2 separate regions of the Homo sapiens genome follow, and region 2 is linked to region 1. The links come from fine-mapping of genetic effects on gene expression. A gene starts in region 1. The other region holds a variant in brackets. All regions are shown on one strand. Distances are from middle to middle.

Region 1 (5,366 bases):
GCTCATGACTTAAAAGGCTTGTGCTCCATCCTGGCTCTACCACTGATGAGCTGTATGCCTTTGGGCCAGTGACTCTGCCTCCCTGGGCCTCAGTTTCCTCATCTGTTAAATGGGGTGTAATAATGACACCAACCTCTCACCAGTGAGAAGATGCACCAAAAAAATCCAGAACAGCGCCTGTTTTGTAGTTAATGTTCAATAATAATGCTGCTCATTATTTTTAGACTAGAAGACTCTACTTCCTTGCCTCAGTTGCCCCCTTGACCAAATCTGCCTCAGAGCAGGTCCCCTTCTAGGGATCATGTGCCAGGTCAGAGTTGGGTGCTCAGAAGGGACTGGTCATAGGAAGGAAGTGGGATGAGAGAGAGCAAGGGTCACTTTGGGGCAGGAGGACGATGCTGCGCTGGCCCTGGGAGGGGTCCAGCCAGTGTAGCAGGATAAACAGTGAGACACAGGGTGCCGGGGAGGTATCGTGGACCAGGAGTCAGAACATCAGGCACCCCGCCCTGCAGCTGCCTCTCCTGGCCTGTGTGTCCTGGGGTGACTGACATACTGTCTCTGAGCCTCACTTCCCTCACCTGTGAAAGGGGAGGAATTCATCCCTTCTCAGTCACTCACTCTTCCTCAGCCCCTCACTCCCTGCTAGCTGCAGGGTAGGCACATTCCAGCCTCAGGGCCTTTGCATGGGCTGTGCTCTAGCTGTCTACACAGCTCACTCCCTCATCTCCCTCAAGGCTGTAGCTCAAAAGTTACCTCCTCAGGGAGACCTCCCTGACACCCTATTTAAAATGACAACCCGGTCCCTGGCCTCAATACCCCCAACACAACTTTTCCCCTTCACCTCTCAGTACACTATATAATTTGCTTATTGTTTTTATTAGGGAATTGCCTCCCCCTGCCCCCTGCTTTTAAGCATCAGCTCCATGAGGACAAAAATTTTTATTTTGTCCACAGCTGTCTCCCCAGTGCCTGAAACTGTCCCTGGCACTTTGCTCCATAAGCCATTTTTGGTGTAATGCTCACAAACATTTTGTTCAATAAGCAAAAGTAAAGAACAGCCCCAAACTGTGTGACTATGGGGCATTCCTGTTAAATCCAGCCCCCTCCTCCCCCATACCCCAAGAGGGGCAGGCCCTTCTTCCCACAGAGGTGGGGCTATCAAAAGAAATTGGGAGGCTGGGTGTGAGCTGGAGAAGCCACAAGGGGCCTGGAGGCAGAGCTGTGCAGAAAATAGGTCGCAGTCCTAGAACTGGCAGGTCATGACAGCTGGACATGGGTGAAGGGGCTTTCGGCCTTAGCCCTCCACTCCAAATTTGGAAGCACGGAGGAAGTTGACGACATGTGACTGGGAAAGAAGCGGCCATGGCAGGGGCCTCCTGGGATGGTGGGGACAGAGGGGGCCTCAGGAACAAGACGACCCATTTTACAGATGGGACAACAGAAGCCTGGAGAATAGTCTTATTTCCTAACAACCCAACAAGAAAAATCTTTTCTCTCCTTTCTCGAAGTCTGGGGCTGAGGCTAAGGAGCGGACAGTGCCCCCTCCTGGCTCTGCAACAAAACGACCCCCGCGTCCCTGGGATCTGCGGGCCGCAGATCCTGGTCCCCTCTCCACAGGCCGTCAGGGGTGGAGGTCCAAGGGACCACATAGTTGGGGTGGGCAGCCCCGGTGACTTCTCCCCGCAGGCCCGCCCCGTCAAGAAGTTTGTTTGAAAGAAACCAATCAGGAAGTGCAGGGTAGTGGGGCGGTGAGGGGGCCTTGGCCAGCCGCTCTGGGCTTTGGAGGAGCCTGGGGGTTCTTGGCCTCCGCGCTGCTCTTGCCCCAGCCTCCATCTCTCCGGCGGAGAAACCCACTCCCCCCGGGCTCCAGGAAGAGGCGGAAGCCCGAGACTGGGTCAGGGCGAAGGAAGGTAGAGCGAGGGGACCCAAGGCGAGCGCCCCGCCCCGCCCCGCCCAGCGGGGCGCGCCGGGGTGGGCGCGGCGTTCTGGCCCTTCCTCCACACAGCCTCCCCCGGGTAGGTGCGAGTGTTCTGCCCACGGCAGGGGCCCTAACCCACCCAGCGCCCGGCCAGTGGCCCCACACTGTACCCTTCCTGCAGATCGCGCGACTTTGGGGAGAGTGGGGGGCGTCTCCACCTGTGCGTCCCCTACCCACCCCCTAACTGGGCTAAGGCGCGGCCTGGGTTTCTGCCCGCCCCTTTCCAGCCTGGGGACGGGGGACTCTCTCAGCCTCGCCCCTCCCCCTGCAATCTGTCCCTGATGTCCCCGCTCCAGACACTCACCCACTTTCTGAGACCCAGGCCTCAGCGCCGGTGTCCCCCGGCGGTGAGCTCCGAGCCGTTAGGCGGCCCCGGGTTCTCCGGCCCAGGGCCCCTGCCCCCAGGCCCCCACCCCAGAAGGTCGGGCCAGACTTGTGGGCAGCGGGAACTCCGCCACCACCTCCGTCCGCGGCCCTGCGGGGGCAAAGACTGGGGGAACTCGCAAGTTTGCGCCGCGCACTCCTCCTGCCGGGAACAATGGCGGGAGGGGGAGGGGACAGAGAACCGAGCGCGGGGGACCGAGTCAGACCCCGGGGAGACAGAAACTGCTTTCGCTCCGTTTCTCTCCTGCTCTGAAGCAGAAAGCTCGAGCCCGAGAGGCAGTGGCCGAGGACGAAATAAGCAGTCCAGGAGGAGGGCGACCGCGGAGCCGGGGGAGAGGGGAAACCGAGTCAGAGGGAGGGGCGGCGAGGGGAGAGCGCGCAGGGGAGACGGAAGGGGCTGCGGGACGGCGCCTTGGGGAGCTGGGGAGGCGACCCCCTGGGGTCCCAGCGGGCTCAGCGGGTGCCGAGATGTCCCGGGGCGCCCGGTTAGCGCGCGCGGGGTCCCGGCCGCCCCTCTGCGGTCCCGTCGGCCGCAGGAGCCCCGCTGGGTTGCGCTGCGCAGGCGGCGGGCGGCGGGAGGGGAAAGTCCGCGGCTCGGAAGCGGCGGCGGGGAGCAGAACTTACGGGCCTCGCGCGTGCCGGCGCTGGGCTACGTGGAGCTGATGCCAGGCGGAGGCTCCGGGCTCGGACGCCTCACATCGCGCCGCCCGTGCCGGGCCGGGCAGTGCAGGGCAGGGCAGGGCAGGGCAGGGCAGGACAGGGCAGGGCAGGGCAGGGCCGGGCCGGCTGGACTGCGCGCGGCGCCCTGCGCGGCCGGGGCTTACCGAGTCTGGCGGCCCGCGCTGGTCCCTCCTCTCGGTTCCGCGCACAAGCCAATGGCGCGCCGTCCCCTCCCACGCGCCGGGCTGCCTCGCCCCCAGGGTGGCCGCCGGGGCGGGCGGGATGGGGGTTGGCGGGGAAACCAGGCTCCCGGCTCCCCCGCGAGGCTCTCCCGGGGGCCGCCTGCAGGGGGCGCACGCGCGCCCGAGAGAAGGCGCCGGGGGAGGAAGCCGCGCGGGGAGACCCTGGCGTGGCCCGCGCCGCCCAGGATGACTTTCCTGGCAAGTTCTGCAGACGGTGCCCCTTTCTTGGGACGATCAACGTAGATGGGCAAACCACACCATCTTAAATAGCCTTGCGGTGTCTCCCGGGCCCAGGCCGGTGCCTGAAATGGAAGGGACTGCTTTGGCTGGCGGTGATACCCAAGTGTGTAATAACACAGTCACGACAATAGTCACCGTTTGCTGCGCACTCTCTGATGCCAGACACCATATGCTAAAGGAGTTACAAGTATTAACTCATTTGATTTTCACAGCAACCCATAAGGGCGCTGTGCTTAGTCCCATTTTACAGGCCATGGTCGTTAAAGTTTGAGTTCACTCAGCCTTCAGGCTTCCAGCCTAGGCCCACCCTTCTCTCTCCCTGCTTGGTGTGACTTGGCCAAATAACATGACCCCACTGTCACTACGGCCACCTTCTTCATACTCCACCCTAAAATCCAGCCTCAGAGATGCTGCTGTCAGTTGCGCTGTCAGGAGGCTAGGATCTTATCTGGGGCTCTAGGACGCTTGTTGGCGCTACAGTTGTCAAACCTTTTGTCTCTACACATCCTATGGGGGGCTGGGGTGAGGATGAGGGTTGGGGGTCATGGAGGCTCTCTGGTGGCGTGTCAACCTGAGAGAACCAGGCTCCTACAGACAAGGCCCCACCCCCAAATTCTGGGCTCCTTCAACCCCTTATGGTGGGAAAATAATGTGCTCTCTCCCACCCCAACCCCCACCACCCTGTGCTCTCCTTAGAGAAATGCCTGGATCTCTTTCATCTGATCTGATGGTCACAGTGGGCCAGGAACCGGGGTGGGGGGCTGCGGGAAAAGGAAGGCAAGGCTGATGACATGCTCCATTTCACAAGTAAATAAGACAGAAAGAGGTGAGTGGCTGCCTCAGGCATCTAGCTAGGTGGGCATTCTGACTCCAGGTCTCGGTTCTGTCTGCACCAGTTCCTTAACGGTTAATAGAGCAGGCTCTGGAACCAGATCACCTAGGTTCAAATCCTGACTCTGCCTTTTAGTGCCTGTGTGGCCTTGGACAAAGTAAGTCACCTAGAGCAACCAATAGTAAGAACCGGCTATGGTTGCTGTAGAGATTTAGAGTTAATAGGAGCTGCTCATGTTTACTGTGCATGGACTCTGTGCCATGCAGGCTCCCACTGTCCTCACCAGAGCTGGGATTGGGCAGGAGAGTCTGTGCCCTTGGCAAGGAAGTAAACAGAACAGTCCTTGGTTCATAGTAAGTGCTCAGTGAATATAAACTGTCCTGATTACTAAGGTAGATAAACTCTGATGCCCCAGTGCCACTGACACTGCCCCCAGCCAAACACCTAGACAGTGATAGCCAATAATGAATGAATCAATCAATCAATCAAAGTATGTGACTCTAGATGAGGATTATTTTTAAGGTGTGTTGGGTGGAGCCATCTGACTCAAGGCTCTATAGTAATTTCTGCAACAACTCAGTCTCACCTCACTGCCTTTACAGAGCTGGGCCAAGCTGGGTTGATGAATTCATTTGTCACTCCCTCTTCTGCCTTTCTGGCACTCAGGGCTCTGGATTGCTGAAGGGAGGGCCCCCAGCGTCATTCATGTGCAATGTCCTCCCAGACTTGGGGACACCTGCCAGTGCTCTGCTTGGTGTAACCCTAAAGACTAGCAGCAGGGTCTGTGCTTGTAATCCCAGCCAGCCTGATCATACATCAGTGGGAGGCCTTTGTCACAATCACTCCAAGTTTTCCAACATGGAAGAGGCTGCCTTAGTTGTCATGAATGAGTGCCCTGTCACTAGCAGCATGCAAGCAGAATCCAGGGAAGGGTTGATGAGGACAGCAGAGGAAGAATTCCCACCTTAAGTGGTATTTGGAGTGGATAACCTTTGCCCTCTGGGTGTCTGTATTCTCTCAGTCTCCTTAT
Region 2 (5,366 bases), 47 kb before region 1:
TCTGAAAAATAGAATGACATTACCTACTTCCCAGAGCTTTACAAGGATTCAATGAAATTGTGTGTGTTCCCTGGCACATAGTAAGAACTCAGTGTATGCCAGTGGTTACTATTATTAGCTACCATGTGCCAAGCCCTGTGCTCAGTATTTTCCATACAACTTGAGGAAGGCTTTTTTTTTTTTTTTTTTTTTTTTTTTTTTTGAGATGGAATTTCACTCTTGTTGCCCAGGCTGAGTGCAATGGCATGATCTCGGCTCACTGCCACCTCTTCCTCCTGGGTTCAAGCAATTCTCCTGCCTCAGCCTCCCGAGTTGCTGGGATTACAGGTTCCTGCCACCACCCCCAGCTAATTTTTGTTATTTTTAGTAGAGACAGGGTTTTGCCATGTTGGCCAAGTTGGTCTCAAACTCCTGACCTCAGGTGATCTGCCCGCCTCAGCCTCCCAAAGTGCTGGGATTACAAGCGTGAGCCACCGCGCCCGGCCGAGGAAGGCATTGTTTTTATCCTGACTTTACAGAGAAGGAATTCAGTTGTATGCAGTTTAGTAACTTGCCCCACCAGCTAAGCTTGGCAGAGCTGGGACACAATCCCCTGTTGGGCACCAAAGCCCTCTTTTTACTCATCCACCCTGCTCTGAAACTGGAACCCGGGCCTCCATATTCTTCACCGGCCCCCAGGCTCACATCATCTATTTTCCTACCTGACTCACCTTTGAGGTTGTGGGAGGCTCTTCCCAGGAGACATGTCTCCTTTGATTGCATTTGTCTGGGAGCCCAGCACTCCGCAAGCCCGGGCCATGAGATGTAATCTGCAATGAATGTGGTACACAATAAATACAGGTAGTCCGTTTATGAGCTGCCATATTTATTACACCCCTTAATTGCTAAAGAGCCAGAGCCGGCTGAAGCTGGATCCTACCCTGGAGAGAAGCTCTGCCTGGGTGGGCAGAGGGAGGGATGGCAGAGCCTGGCCTCCTGCACAGGACTACTCAGCCTCTCGCTGTTGTGGCTGCTCTGCCTCCAAAGGCCCATTCATCCAAGTCAGGGCCTGGCAGAGGAAACAGTCAGGCCATCAGATTCCTGCTCTGCCATTTGACACAAGAAGGCACTGAGGCCAGAGACAGAAAGTGATTTGCCCAAGGTCACACAACAGTGACTTACAGAGCAGAAGCCTGGGCTCCAGACTCCTAGGCCAGTGCTCCTTGTGCCCAACTCTCTGCTTGAACATCTGCTCCTGGATCAGGTAGAGCACAGGATGTGGAGTTGGGTGAGTGGTGTTTTTGAAGCCCAGTCTGTGCATACAAGCTGTGTGATACTGGCCAGGTTACTTGACCCCTCTGAGCTTCAGTGTCCTCTTCTGTAAAATGGGCATAGTACGTCCTGCTTTAGGGGCTTGTTGAGAGATTAAAGGCAGTCAGTTCTGCGGAGTTGGCATGTGACTGGCCATGAGTCAGTGCTCAATAAATGTTCTTTCCTATCCTCTTTTCCCTTTCCAAAGGGCACAGGGTGACTGAAGATGCACGGAGCTGAAGTCAGCCAAGAGCTGAAAGGAGAGATGGGTCAGAATAGAAAGCTCCGGGGTGCAAGGCATTGTCCTGGGTTTATGGTCTAACAGGGAACAGCAGGCCTATGAGTAACCTATGAAGGCAGAGTTAGGTGTAGACGTGATAAGAGCTGTCCATCCTGCTCTGTGCAGGTACAGCGGGGAGCCCTTTACACTGGATGTTTTTATAGGTGAAGAAACTGAAGTTCCAAGAGGCTAAGTCACTTGCCCAAAGACACAGAGGTAGAAAAGGTGATGGGCTGGGATTCGAACCCAGTTGTGTCTGACTTCAGAGCCCATGCTTAGGACCATGCTGGTTGGATGCAGGTTAGATGTTCCTTCTAGAAAGTCAGGGATGATGTGAGGGATGTAGCTGGCAAGCTGGCCTGGAAATGGTATCCTGGGGGACCGTTCTGTAGGAAGAGAGCCTGGGCTTGGTGACGAAGGAAGAGCCAAAGGCCCCACAGTCAGTGATGATGGTTGAGATGCTTAACAGCCAGTATGCACTGGCATGAACCAACCAGAAGAGATGCTGGCCAGACAGCAGGACAGCCATCCCTATGGGTCCCCACTGAATCTCAGCCCTGCCCACTGCCCTCTGGGAGGGCAGGGCCTGGAGAAAAGGAAGGGATAGGTTGTCCTGGTGCCTCCCATCCCAGGCAGGCACCAAAGCAGGCAGCTCTAGGCTTTCAGGCCTCAGGAAGACCTGAGGAGAGAAGGGTGAGCAAGCGGGGCATTAGGGGGGCCTGTCCTGGGCTGTCCTCACCCAGGAGAGGGTACAACAGAGAGAGGAAACGGAGCACAGGAGAACACGACTGTGGGTTTGAATCCTTGTTGCTCCACTTTCTAGCTGTTGGAGGCGAGGAGGATACGAATGACTGGAAGCATGCCTTAGCCCAGCACCAGGCTTCCTTCACACTGCTGAATTAACACTCCCTATGTGGAGGGTTTTACTCAGTCCAAACCAAGTGCAACCCTACTGTGTCCCAGGAGGGCACAGCCACGACTCTGCTCCTCTGGGATTCACCAGGAACGC[T/A]GGCTGATGATGTTATGGTATATATTTTGGTGGGGGCAGTGGTAGATGTCAGCAGAAGCCGTGGGATATTATACTAGGGGAAGGCACTGAGCTTGGCTTGATGGGGGCAGGAGGGGGGAATCAGGGAAGGCTTCCTGGCGGAGGTGATGCCTGTGACGAGTCTTAAAGGATGAATAGGAATTAAGTGGGACTGGCATAGTTGGAAAGGCAATCCAAACAGAAGGGATCAGCATGAGCAGAGGCACCAAGTAAGCGTCAGGGACATACCTCTGGGGGACTCTCCTTTGATGGTGGTGATAGGAAAGTCAGGGCAGGAATAACAAGAGGTGGCGATGGTGAGTCTTGGAGGTCCTGTGGTCTGTAGGAGGCAGCTTGGTCTCCTGTAGAGGTTGGGTTCCAGCAAGAGAGGGCTGTGGTGACATGTGCTTTCTGGAAAGCTCCTTCTGGCAGCAGGGAAGCACTGGATTGAAGGGGAGGTAGGGAGGCCAGTCCCAGCCCAGAGGCTGCAGCCATGTCTGGATGAGAGAGAAGGCCAGGAGCAGGGCTGAGGCTGGAGATGTTTCAGAGACCCCTGTGATAGAGAGGATGATGTCATCCGATTTTACCTCCAAAGGCAGATGGCATGTCTTGAATTCAGGCCATGCTCACTGAAGTAAAGACAAATCCGCCCCCCACCCCATCACACACACACCATCCTTTGTCCTTCCAAGCTGGATTGCCTGGGTTCCAATCTTGGCTTCACCACTCACTAGCTGTGACCTCAGACAAGTCACCTCGCCTCTGTCTGACTCAGTTTCCACCTCTGGAAAATAAGGATAATAAGAGTATTAATCTCATGGGTTGTTATGAGTTAGTAAATGTAAAGTATCAGGACGGAGCTGGCACATAGTAAATGCTCAATAAATAGTATTATTTGTAGGGGTGGAGACTTGGGTGGATGATCTCAGGAAAACCCTGATTTCCCATTACCCCAACACAATTTAAGAGAAACCCTTGGGGCACTGTTGGAAGGACAAAGGCTTGGAGCCTGGAGTCCCTGGGTCAGGTTCACCCCATGATTTTTTCCCTTGCATTCCTCACCAGGTAACTTGGTGCCTCAGTTTCCCCTTCCTAGTAAGAGAAGAAGGAGGATGTCCCAGGTGGGCTCTGAGTGTCTTCCCCTCCTGACTTTGATGCTGAGTGGCCCCGCCTGTGCCTCCCCTGCTCAGCATTTTTCCAAGTTGCAATAGGGACCAGTAGAGCAGCAAGGAGGAGGTGTCCCTTTAGGGAGGAAAGCCCTCCGGCCCCAGGGCCAGTGCCAAATCCAAAGCCGATGTGCCTGTCAGACCTTCCTCTTGGGCTCCAGGCACCTTAGCCATGTCTGCCTGGCCAAGCTCAGCTGGTGGACAGACATCTGGCACCTTGGCAGAAACAACGAGAGGAGGGACGCAAGGCACCACCCCTGAGACCAGGAACCTTTCCTGTGTCGACTCCCCACCAGCTGGCTCTGTCTGTGCTCCTCTCTCCATGGATTCAAATGCACTTAAAAACAAACAAACAAACAAACAAAAACACCTCTAGCTCAGACCAAAATGCAGCCTGGAGTGGTGCTGTCATCACTGATTAGGAGAGGGGTGGAGTGGCCCAGCAGGTGAGAGGCAGGCACCGCTCTGCTCCATCTGTTCCTTATGATACGAGGGTGCTGGTCTGGCTGCTGAGGAGAGTGTTGGATTGTGGTTTTGGGCGAGGGCGAGGAGGGGACAGAGTTGCTGAGGCCTATTATGTGCCATGGGCCTTGTCAGTGCTTCCTACAAGCTGTGTGGCCTTGGACAAATCCCTTAACCCTTCTGAGGGCTGGGCTGATGGAAGGATGTGTGGTCATCAGAGTACATACCTCCTTGGTGGTTACAAGGATTAAACGAGATAATATGCGCAAAACCCTGGGCACAGTGCTGGATCCCCAAACAGTGGCTACGATTATTACTGTTTTCCTGACTTCATTTTAAATTGATGAATAATAATTGTATATGTTTATGGAGTCCAATGTGATGCTTTGATACACATTTTACTATTATTAATATTAATAATAAGCCTCCCAGAAACCCTTTGAGTCAGACTTAGCAACCTTATTTTGTGGAAGAAGAAGATAGAGTACAGCCATGTCCTGTGGGAGGAAGCGGGAGCTGCAGAAAGTAATCAGACACCATCTCCCCTACATCCATCCACACCCCAACACATATTCCCAGAACCCTTTGCACTGAGTCCTGTCATGGAGGTACAAACCCCCTGCTGGAAGCACCTGCAGTGCCGGCAGCTCAGGACTGGCTTGAGTTCTGGCCCTTCCCCTTACTAGCTGTGGGACATCGGACATGTCGTTTTCATTCTGAGTCTCGGTTTCCCCACCTGTCTCATGGATCTCTAATCCCTGCCCTGAGTCTCTCCTCAGAGCCGTTATGAAGAAAATGTGAAAATAACGAATATGGAATGTAAACATGTCTTGTGCACCTTGAGGTCTGACTCATGAGAGCAGATGCTGTCAGTTTCCCCTGGGGGATGGGGGACATTTGCATCTCAGTGCAGCCCCGGCTGTGCCTGGCAAGCAGCGGATGCTCAATCAATGTTGGCTGAATGGAATTGTGTTCAATGACTTGCTGCCATGGGTATACTTTTAGGTGAAGACAGGAAGGGCTCCCAGGGAGGTGGGATGCTAGAGGTCTCAGAGTAGAGGTAGCCAAGGCTCAGGGAGGCTTTGGCCCCAGAAGCAGGTTTTAGATCCCCAGGTAGGCTGCTCTCCTTTTCCCTGCAACA

The links. PIP is the estimated chance that this variant, and not a neighbour inherited with it, causes the effect.
Region 2: its variant is the best candidate, but not a certain one, in a credible set for the expression of TP53I11 in whole blood (INTERVAL, PIP 0.79).

What each region holds. Positions count from the first base shown.
Region 1 is chr11:44,947,691-44,953,056 of GRCh38, forward strand. It overlaps TP53I11 (tumor protein p53 inducible protein 11), which reads right to left and starts at 3,193. Exons shown (of 7, transcript NM_006034.5): 1 at 2,987-3,193. RefSeq lists silencers at 2,963-3,092, 3,123-3,382.
Region 2 is chr11:44,900,510-44,905,875 of GRCh38, forward strand. The region is part of intron 3 of TSPAN18 (tetraspanin 18); the gene reads left to right. LOC124902664 (a long non-coding RNA gene) reads right to left here and starts at 3,330. Exons shown (of 3, transcript XR_007062659.1): 1 at 3,271-3,330; 2 at 2,847-3,150; 3 at 629-809. The variant T/A (reference allele first, on the strand shown) is at 2,580.